Regions from separate parts of the Homo sapiens genome. Here region 2 is linked to region 1. The links come from fine-mapping of genetic effects on gene expression. A gene starts in region 1. The other region holds a variant in brackets. All regions are shown on one strand. Distances are between the middles of the regions. Region 1 holds the start of HGF (hepatocyte growth factor). Region 2 overlaps HGF (hepatocyte growth factor).

What was found. PIP is the estimated chance that this variant, and not a neighbour inherited with it, causes the effect.
Region 2: its variant is the best candidate, but not a certain one, in a credible set for the expression of HGF in whole blood (TOPMed, PIP 0.54).

Annotation. Positions count from the first base shown.
Region 1 is chr7:81,766,951-81,772,335 of GRCh38, forward strand. HGF (hepatocyte growth factor) reads right to left here and starts at 3,097. Exons shown (of 18, transcript NM_000601.6): 1 at 2,934-3,097. The coding sequence starts at 3,021.
Region 2 is chr7:81,741,824-81,747,208 of GRCh38, forward strand. HGF (hepatocyte growth factor) reads right to left here. Exons shown (of 18, transcript NM_000601.6): 6 at 3,177-3,297; 7 at 1,530-1,648. Among named protein-coding and RNA genes, the nearest start is that of HGF, 26 kb to the right of the region's middle. The variant G/A (reference allele first, on the strand shown) is at 2,375.

The DNA of each region.
Region 1 (5,385 bases):
ATTCCCCATCACATGCCCAATACTTCTGCCTCAAATGCTTGCCTTCAGTTGCTGTGTGGGGTCCTTCCTGGGACATTCCTTATACTTACGAACCTCTGTACCTTGGGCCACTTGTGATCCTGTGCTAAGATACTGACTATTCTACCATCCATCTTTTCATATGGACTTCAGTACCATATAACCCCTTCACCTGGTTTGATTCTCTATGCTGAAAATGAACTCTCAACCATAGTACAAAGTATTTCTAACAGGGTTTTTTGAAAATATATCACTTGGCCAAATGATTTTTTTTAAGTAAATTTCAGTTGATTTCACTGCTGCTCGCTTCAATATAAATGAAAAAAGAAAAAAAAAAAACACCACATAGTTCATTCACATACATTTGGGTAGAAATCTCAGCTCTGTCCCTTAACTCACAAAGAAATAAGATAACTGAGGTCTTTGAACCGGCTAAATGAGTCCAATAGTGCCAATCTTATTAGAATTAAGTGAGATGTACTTTACTACTTGGTTCATATCAGTTGCTCAACAAATTTAAGTTCCTTTCTTATTTGTTCATCTTTACATCCCCCACATACTCTTGAATATTAGGTGCTCATTTAATGCTTCTTTTATTACAGAGGATTGGATATTTGTTTCCCATGTAGGTGGGAGTGAATAGAGGGTAATTCTATATAGGCTAACTCCTACAAAGATGGCGGGGGCCCATTATATTGAATATTTCTTAAGCTTTTAAAAAAGTATCTCCATAGTGTATTCTGTTGATAACTGGTTGTCAACTTACAGTATATACTTCTTTCCTAACAATGTGTTATTTTACAATACATACAAATATAAATTCATAGAATAAATAATTATAATCAAAGCTAGTAACAACAAAAGAAACCTCTAAATAGTCAATATTAAATGTCATTTAAAAAAGAACAAACTTTGTGTGTTCTAAGAGGCTACCCATATTTTTTATTTTAAAGGTTATTAAAAAAAACTATCAAACTGGCCATCTAAACAAAGGCGCACCCTCCTTTGATGACAATTTTAGAATTATCCACTTCAGGAATTATTCACAGCATATTTGTAATTCCCAACTGGACTCTCCTTGCCTGCCAGCACTCTTGGGCTGCATTCTGCCTGTACTCAGGAAACACAGTCATTTCTACATTAGGCAAAGTGAAATATAATTACAAATGTATGTCTCCTGCCAAAAGTTCATAATGCATGCCGAAAACAAATAGACACTGCCTACGGTTGATCTACTGTTTGGGTTTTCCACACTGCGTTCCCCTTGCGTTAGCACAGATGAATTCAGGTAACCAGATTCTACTTAAGAACAGTGACATTTTAATCTTTAAAAATGAAAACCCTCAAAATATTAGCCATTATTTCAATTTAAGCTCAAAATCCCCTAAACCAGCAGTCATCTGTGAAGCATTTTTTTCTTCTTCTTCTTGAGATGGAGTCTTGCTCCGTTCCCCAGGCTGAAGTGCGGTGACACAATCTCGGCTCACTGCAACCCCCACCTCCCAGGTTCAAGAGAGTCTCCTGCCTCAGCCTCCCAAGTAGGTGGGACTACAGGTGCCTGCCACCACGCCTGGCTAATTTTTTGTATTTTTAGTAGAGACAGGGTTTCACCTTGTTAGCTAGGATGGTCTCAATCTCCTGACCTCGTGATCTGCCCGCCTCGGCCTCCCAAAGTGCTGGGATTACAGGCGTGAGCCACCGCACCCGACCCTGTGAAGCGATTTTAACATGACACATGTCAAGCATGATAACCTGCTTGATTTGAACTCACTGCTTTTTCACTTCTTCAGAAATCTTACCTAAATGCTTTCAGAGTGACCCTTTCCAAACAGTGTCATTTTCCAAACGGGCCACTTCACAAAATAAAAGAAAACCAGGTGGGTTGAATGATTTTCCTTTGCATTTAGAAAATTCTTGAGTTTTTTAACCCTTGTACCATATCAAAAACTAGATCAAAGGTCTGATAAATGTCATATTTACCATCTCAAAAGATACAGCCAGTTCTCTTTTTTATATTGTAAAAAGGCCATGTCTCCATCTGGGCATTTGTTCCCACTCTTTTATTCCCCTGCGCCTACCCTTGATATTCACTGCCTTCTCCCGTTGGCACCTCAGCCTCTACAATGATACAACAAAATACAGATGTTTCCTCTTGCCCTGATAACAAGAGAAACTTCCCAGAGCAGCAAACGAGATCTCTAAATCTCCAAGCAATATGAACTTTCAAGCAACTCCTCCCCAAACGGCAAATCCAAGGGAGAAAGTGGGAGACAGAGATGGGCAGTTCTGCAGCTTTAATCAAAGTCTCCGTGCACTGCAGTTTCAAAGGGCAGGCATCCGTACCCAGAAAGAATAAGATCTTTAAAAAGAGGCTTTCTCTTTCATTTTTATGATATGCAAATACTCAGAGTTTATTCTGCCTCCTCAAAATGAAAACCTGTACAAAGTCGTAATTTGGCTCCAAATGTTGACTAGGTGATGTGGAGTAGTGCATTATCATGAAAAATTGTTCTCTGGAAAAGGATGACTTCCTGCCGGACTGACCATCACTCTTGCCTCTTCAGACCAGACCCTCTCTTTAGCTTTAAACTTGTCCAAAGCAGCCAAGTTCAGCCAGTATTAGCACTTCCTCCCTATCTCATAATCCACAACTATTAGGCTAAGTGGGACGGGGCTTGGGTTGGAGGTGGAGGGGAGTTGAGGGAAAGTTAATTATCATTTTAAATGCTATTCAAACAACAACAAAAAAGAATGTCAAAAAAAGCATAATGAGAGCTTTTAGAAACCTATACTACATACTGAGTTCAGAAAGGATGCTGGGAATAGGGTAAAAAGAGGGTGTTAAAAGGAATAGGGAAGGTTAGCAGGAGAGTTAAATACTAATACTAATAATGAAGAAGAAGAAGGGAACTAACCTGCATAGGGGATGGCGATGGGGAGCAGGAGGAGATGCAGGAGGACATGCTGCAGCAGCAGGGCTGGCAGGAGTTTGGTCACCCACATGGTGCTGCTGGACGGGCTGGCGGATCCCTCTGGAGGAGATGCCTGGGTGAAAGAATCCTGTTCGGAGTCAGTGCCTAAAAGAGCCAGTCGGCTCTGAGCTGCTTTTTATTGCGATGAGCTAAGTTTGTTGTGTGATTAACTGGAAAGATCTAGGTCTGAACTCCCTCTTACGGTAAGAAACTGTTTAACAACAGCCCTTTACTCTCTTCCAGCCCCCTCCTTTCCTCACTCGCCCCCCCTTCAACAGCACCAAACAGATCCCTGCAACCCCCCCCATTCCCCGCCTCCCCCCAACCCCACGCTTAGGAAAGAAACTTACAAAGAAAAGGTCACCTGGCCTGAGGCCAGCTTCAATTTGGAAGCTGGAGCTCCAGATCCCAGTGGCTCCTATCCGAGTAAGGAAGGGAGGAGCAAGGCTGAGCCCAATGGCTAAATCAAGGCACAGGCAGGGGACCAATTCGCTCAATTTAAACAGGAAAATACATGTGTTTATATATCTATTTGGGAAAAGAGGAAGGGGAAGCAGCATAAGAAGAAAGCGAAGAGCTGTCTTTCAGCCAAATGTGCCCCAGCTCCTAATCTGTCTAGTTTTCCTGCTAGAGCAACTGAGGGATTCAAAACACTGACACAGGTTCTCTAGGGGTTTAGAGACCTGGGAGAGGTGGGAGCGGGGCCAGGGAGGAGAGCCCAGGCACGTCCAGCCCAGGTAGAAAGAGGTTAGTTAAGAAAAGGGTGTGGTATTGTGGGGCCAAAATAAGCAAGCAAAACAAAAGCACGCAGATTGTCAGATGAAAAAATTGCCCCTGCCCCATGGGCTCAGAGCAGGCAGCTTTTTTTTTTTTTTTTTTTTTTTTTTTTTTTCACAAACTGCCAAACTCACGAAATACCACACATTTACCCAAAGTATACAAAATAAACTTGTCTGATCTGACTTTTTAAGAGAAAGTCCAAGAAACAGTCATTGTCCATAGCCTGTCCCTGACAGGTAAATATGCCATGTGGACTTGTACAGGCACACACGTGCACACAACACATTCACACATGTTGGTGTGTATGTACGTATACACTGGTTAGGACTGACTTTCACCGGAAATCCCTCAAGCTGTTTGAATTCGTGAGTACTGAATATGCCTCTCTTTTCCAGCTTCATCTGCCTGTACACGACAGCCAGCTTCCCAAAGTGTAAGTGGAAAGATGAGGAGCTTGTATGGGCATGGGGGGACTCCTAGGTATCAAATCCTTGTGAGATCATTGCCCAGACCCCTCACTTGATTCAGAGAATTTGTCTTTGCACCCAGAGGTGGATGCTCTGGTAACTTTAAGCAAGAGCCTGCTTTATTTCTAATGGATGCTGAGGGATACTTGCCCCTGTATCTCTCTGAGATGGATATTAGTAGAGAACAGTGCCCCTGTCCACAGAGGAAAAGAAAGCAGGCCAAATGTGGGAATGACTAGAGCGGTGGGTAGCTGTACAGAAGTGATTGTGGGGCTGAATTAAACTCATCCACAGAACAGCCTTCCCTCCACATACCACCTTCATTTGTCCTCCAGCTCCCTTACCCCCACTTTCAGGGAAAAACAACCTGCCTGATAAGTCCCTGAGGTTGTGGGATATCTAGAGAAGCTAGGGATTAAGAGAATTCCTTTTGAGGGATCTATTTTATATGACCCGTTTCTATTGCTAATCCTTCTCTTTTATCATTTTCTCCTTACTTAAAAATCATTTGTCAGCCTCTGTCTGGTGTCCCCAGGATCCATTTTACTTTCTTTTTACTGTTCAGTAGACTTTTTGGGAAATCTCAGTTCAATGCATAGCCTGACCGTGACCCTGAATTGCTCCACTGCATCTCTTGTGCTTTATTAGGGTGTAGGGGCTCAGAAAAATGATACCCCAAATGAAGACCTCAGAATCAGCTCTCTCTGACCTTCTCCTGCTCTCCAGTCTCCGGCCCTTCATTCTCCCCCAAGGCGAGGCATAGAAACTAGAATCCCTCTTTCCCAAGGTGGCTCCTAGAAACCAGAACCCTTTTTCCCAAACCAGCCATAAAACCTAAGCATATCACTCTAACACCTCAACTTTCTGTGTGAAATCTGGCCATAAAGACATTATCTGACCTACCTTGTTTGATCGTAGCTCATAAGACCCCATTCCAAAGAAGGTCCTGCCCCATACCCAGAAGGAATGAGTACTGCACAGAGATACCAGGAAGAATCTCACCTTGCCAGGCGTCCCCACTCAGTCTGTTAGCATGAGATCATATTCCTTTTGTCCAGTTGTATTTCTCCACACCTGCCCACACTTTGTTGAACCTAAGCATAAAAATGGACAATTTCTTTTGTAACTTTGGGTCTTTGTTCTAAAGG
Region 2 (5,385 bases), 25 kb before region 1:
GCTTCTCAGGAGGCTGAGGCAGGAGAATCACTTGAACCCAGGAGGCGGAAGTTGTGGCGAGCTGAGATTGTGCCATTGCACTCCAGCTTGGACAACAAGAGTGAAACTCCATCTCAAAAAAAAAAAAAAAAAAAAAAAGAGTACCTAAACCACACATACATACACACACAAAAAATCAGAAGGGAAACAGTTGGTTTATTATACCTAACTGGTGTAGAACAATGGAAAGACTAATACAATTTAAAAAGCAATGAGTGGAACCAACCCAATCTATGCAGAGAAACACTGTCACAGGAGTCATCTTTTATTTTAAAGGACAAAACACATGATTCAATTTCCTTGGAACACAGTGTTTTACTCTGAAAGGCTTCCAGATTCTTCAGTTATTTATTGTTGTCCAAAGTATTAAGAGTTGTCCAAAACATTTCCTTTTATTAGCAGGTCTAGATTGAGAGAGATTTACCTCGGCAGTACCATAGTGTGGATAATATTCAGTTAGGTTTGTTCAGAGGAACTTCCCCATCATTCTGCTATAGTGAAATATATGAAAATCAATCCATGCCCTCTTAATTATATATTTTACTCTAGGTGCTGGTGCCTGATCTTATGTAGGTTATTTAGCTTTACATGTCTGTCCATATATACATAACTTTATATTATCAGGCCAATTTATAACATTATTATACCTTACTAAATTTATGCAATTCTATTGATTTTAAAGAATTTTAATATCCAGTTGAAAAAAATTAGCCCTGTATTCAAAGAAATGAAAACATTATGTAATATTGTTTAAGAGAACAGTGAAAATGTGTGACTTAACCATAGAGGAGAGGACCAAGTTCACAGATTGAAAGGAACAATATAAAACACGTTAAAAAATAGTTTTTATTGTAAATTCAGAAAAGCTAGGTAAGGGCCAGCATGTAGAAAAATGATTGTATGGACTGCTAAAAGACAGATCGAAACAGAATGCAGGCTGGGTACAAAGACAGCGAGAGAGGTAGGGATCAGCTATAAAGATTAGAGACATCTGTGATAAACTTCTATTAGACTCATTATTCTTCACTGCAGCCTCTGTCACTCACCAGAAGAAGTTCACCATCAGTTGAGAGCCCATGTTATGTCTCTGGGGAGGAAAGGTAGGTAAAGGATACAGGATTGGAAGGTAAGGAACTAAGGTCCTAGCTTTTACTCCCCTAATGACTTTGTGATGCTGCACACATTTCCGATCTTTTTCTCTCTCTGTGGTTTTTTAAATTTTCTTGATAACATTAGAATGTTTAGGCTCTTGCCATAAGTAAAAATGTTTTCTATGGATGTGTGTATTTGCATATTTATCACAGTCAAAATAATCAGTCTCCAAAAATGCAAAAGATTGGGTAGGATTATGTAACACATTCTTAAAATATTAAAACCTGCACACATTAAAGCATCAAGTTAAATAGTTGTTAACCTGTCTCACTAATAATCGCCTGCTTAGATCCAGTCTGTGAGAGGAAAAGGAAGCAATAAATTTGACCTTCACTTACCGCATGTTTTAATTGCACAGTACTCCCAGCGGGTGTGAGGGTCAAGAGTATAGCACCATGGCCTCGGCTGGCCATCGGGATTGCGGCAATAATTATCATCAAAGCCCTTGTCGGGATATCTGCAAACCACACCAAGAAAAGTGTCACGTAAATCTGCCTGGAAACACCACCCACCCCTCAGCTCACAAAATAACTTTCCACTTAGGTTGTCTACACCTAGCTGGGGAAAGAGGACGTTTTCTATGTTTTGCCTTACGAGGACTGCTGATCACTGACTATTGAATCTACTAATTTATATATCCCACTAAGGACAGAGTATCATCCCCTGGCTAATAAGTTAGGTCTATGTGGTACCTTTCCACTAGCTGAGGTTCCAAATCGAGTCTCTTTCTCTTAGAACCCACTTAAGGGCAGATTACAAAAACATGACTTCATGTAGAATGCTCATTAAGAAAACAGGTCCTCTTCTAGGGAAGGCTTAAAGTTCAAACTGAAAGTTCAGTTTCAATAGCGCTGTTACTAATGATAACTCAGTTTTGGAAATAGAGCCCTTCGAGGTCATGCCCTCACCTTCACCAGATCATGAGACAAACTTCATCACACTACTTTCTCCACACCCCACCTCCCTTCAAATGAACAGAGTCCTGAATTGGTGACTTGATTTTAATTGCTACCATATCCCTTCTGCTCTCACTTAAACGACAAGACAAGCATTTATTTGGAAAATAAGCTGGAGTTTTAATTTCATTAAAAATAACACCAAACAAAAAAGAATAGAGAAAAAGAACAAAGAAAAAACACCTAACAGCAATTTCCAAAGAAAGGTGGGGGACGGAATTTCCTGT[G/A]TAATTATTTGTATTTTTATTCTTTATAATCAAAATAAATGAACTTCTTCCTTTTTTTTCCACCTTAAAAGTTTCATGTAAAATACATGGGCAAAAGTAGACATGATTTTTTTTTTTTTTTTGGCGGAGATGGGTAATAATTTAAGCTCAAAACCTATTCCTGGGGATAAAAGATAGATTAGTTGCCTGACTTCTCCAAATTGGCTTTTTATATGGGCAATTTCAAAACACACCAGGACAAAGCAACCTGAATGGTTTGCTCTACTTTTTACTCCCTATGACCACTACTTATGTCATGCTGTTATGTGTGTGGCCTGCAGTACCTGAGTCTCTGAAGATGCTGCTCCAGAAGGAGATTTGCCTGCAATTAGTAACAATACCTCTAATCACAGCTAAGACTTGTCAAAGTGGTCATTACTGAATTGGTCCTGTGGTTTGCTTTGGTTTTGTTTTGTTTCTGCTCTGAGAGAGAAAGAAGCTTCTTTTTGTGCTTCCACTCTATACCCTGCTGATGATTTTGTGTTCAGTACCATGCTGATTTTAGAAACTCTGACCAGTTGGCTATGTAGTCAGTGTTCTCATGTACCTCATCATAAATCTTTTTGCCCTTAGACTATTTCCTCCAAATATAATGGCCAGAAATTCTGTCAGAAGAACTCCTGAACATTCTGGGAGTTCTAAATGTTATGTTCATGTCCTATCGGGAAAACATAATATAAAGAGAATTTCCACAGCAGTGTGTCATAGAGTGAATAATAGTTTGTAAAAGAATCACTGAAAGCATGATTCATTAATATTTTACCTTTCAGGCAAGAATTTGTGCCGGTGTGGTGTCTGATGATCCCAGCGCTGACAAATCTTGCCTGATTCTGTATGATCCATGAGACCTCGATAACTCTCCCCATTGCAGGTCATGCATTCAACTAATAAAATTAAAGTATGGCATGTTAATTGTTTCTGACAGCAAAATCAAAAACACCACTGTTGCATTTAAAGAACAGCACCTGTTTAGTAAACAGATTTTTAAAAAATCCTACACATCATTCTAACTTTTTATTAGGGCCTAATGTCTATAAATAGTGACATAAACTACTCCCTATAGAACACATCATACAGTTTAAGTGGGATTTTTGTACTTAGTGTCACACAGATTTACTATAGGGCCACGACGCTGTCTATCTATTTTTTCAATAACTGTCTCAAAGGTATCTAGAAAATGGAAATAAAAGACAGATCCTTGGAAATTTTTCCCGTGTTGGTCTAAAATGCAAAGATCTCAGTATCTATTTGTCAGCACAATAGTGTTTCTCTCTCAATTTGCCCTCCAAATACATACACAGGAAATACAAAGTTTAATTGAGTTTGTGTCATACTTTTATGGTTAATGACATAATCAAGACCACATAGATTTAAGAGACTGGCTTCATATAGAAATCTGGTGCAATTCAAAGAATACGGATATTTTTAAAAAATAAATCACAGCTCCTTTCTGTTAGCGAACATCCATGTTGAATAAGCTGGGCAGGTTTACATTCCTGTCTGGCTTAGGATAGAAGATGACCTGCTATTGAACTCCATGTTCCCACTCTTTTTAAAATGTATAAGCTAATGTAATTAGGTAGGCTCTTACTGATGATTTTGTGAGGTTAATTCATTGTTCTCTTCTGGCTGGCCTCTTATGTCACACAGAAAACTGAATCACATCAATTGCTGAAAGTGAGACTTCTCAAACAGACAGGTTGATTTGTAGCACAGAAAGCATCCTGTGGAATAAATCATTGCTTGGCTTTCCTATGAATCAGGCAAACTTCCTTAAACACATCATTTGTATCTTGCAATTACTGATCATCTAACTTTAGCTGAAGTGGGAAGAGGCATCAATGTTTAGTTTTATCCAACGGAATCTAGCCTAATGAGTATTTGTAGTAATTTGGGATTATAGTATTAGAATCATCACTTTTGAATCCTTGATTCTTATAATCTAATAGGGACATTAACTATTAACTTTCTGAAACATGCAACAACTTGGCTTGATCCATCTGCTTTCCTTCATTTATATTAATACATTAGCTAAGAGGCCAACTCGGCTTCCCTTCATTTGATACTGAGATTTTCCAGACTACACCCAATAAGCACCTGAACTGTAAATGAGTGGAGTCCATGAGCATATCAATAAAGGTGCTCAGGTTGGCCAGGGTCATAGCAGTGCTCAACATAGGTGATGCAATGTTACATTTCAGCTTTCCATTTGAATGCTTAACAGGTTCATTTAGGTATCTCTCTCTTTTTTTAAAGAACACAAATTTTGATACCGTCAAAGAAAATGATGCAGCATTTATCGTTATTTGTTCCTTCGTGTTGGATGAAATGTACAATAGAGTACTAGGGTCACACATAAAAGATAAGTATTCATATGTACAATTTCTACTCTTGTATAGTACTCAGGAAAGAGATTACATCTATTATGCCTCCTTCAGCAAATGCAGCTTGTGATAGTATATTCCTTTCTAACGAGGGTGAATAGAATTATTTTCTGGTAATCACTACATTGAGCAGTATTATAAAAATTTTTCCTTGACTTACACATTTTAATGGTTTTAAGAAAAAATAGCTACATGAATGAAACAGATGGTTCCATAAGATGACCACTTTCCATTATGAGTGTGGCAGATCAATGCTTGTTCAAATATGAATGTGTGCAAAAACCTCCTTGAGATCCTGTTAAGAGGCAAGTTCTGAGTCAGTGGGTCTGGGCTGGGGCACTAATAACAAGCTCCCAGGCATTGCTGCTGTTGCTGGTACTTGGACCTCACTTTGCTCTGCAACTTTCTAGATAACAGGATCTATTATAAAAGTTCTGGCCAGGCACGGTGGCTCACGCCTGTAATCCCAGCACTTTGGGAGGCCAAGATGGGCGGATCACGAGGTCAGGAGATCGAGACCATCCTGGCTAACACGGTGAAACCCCGTCTCTACTAAAAATATAAAAAAATTAATCAGGTGTGGTGGTG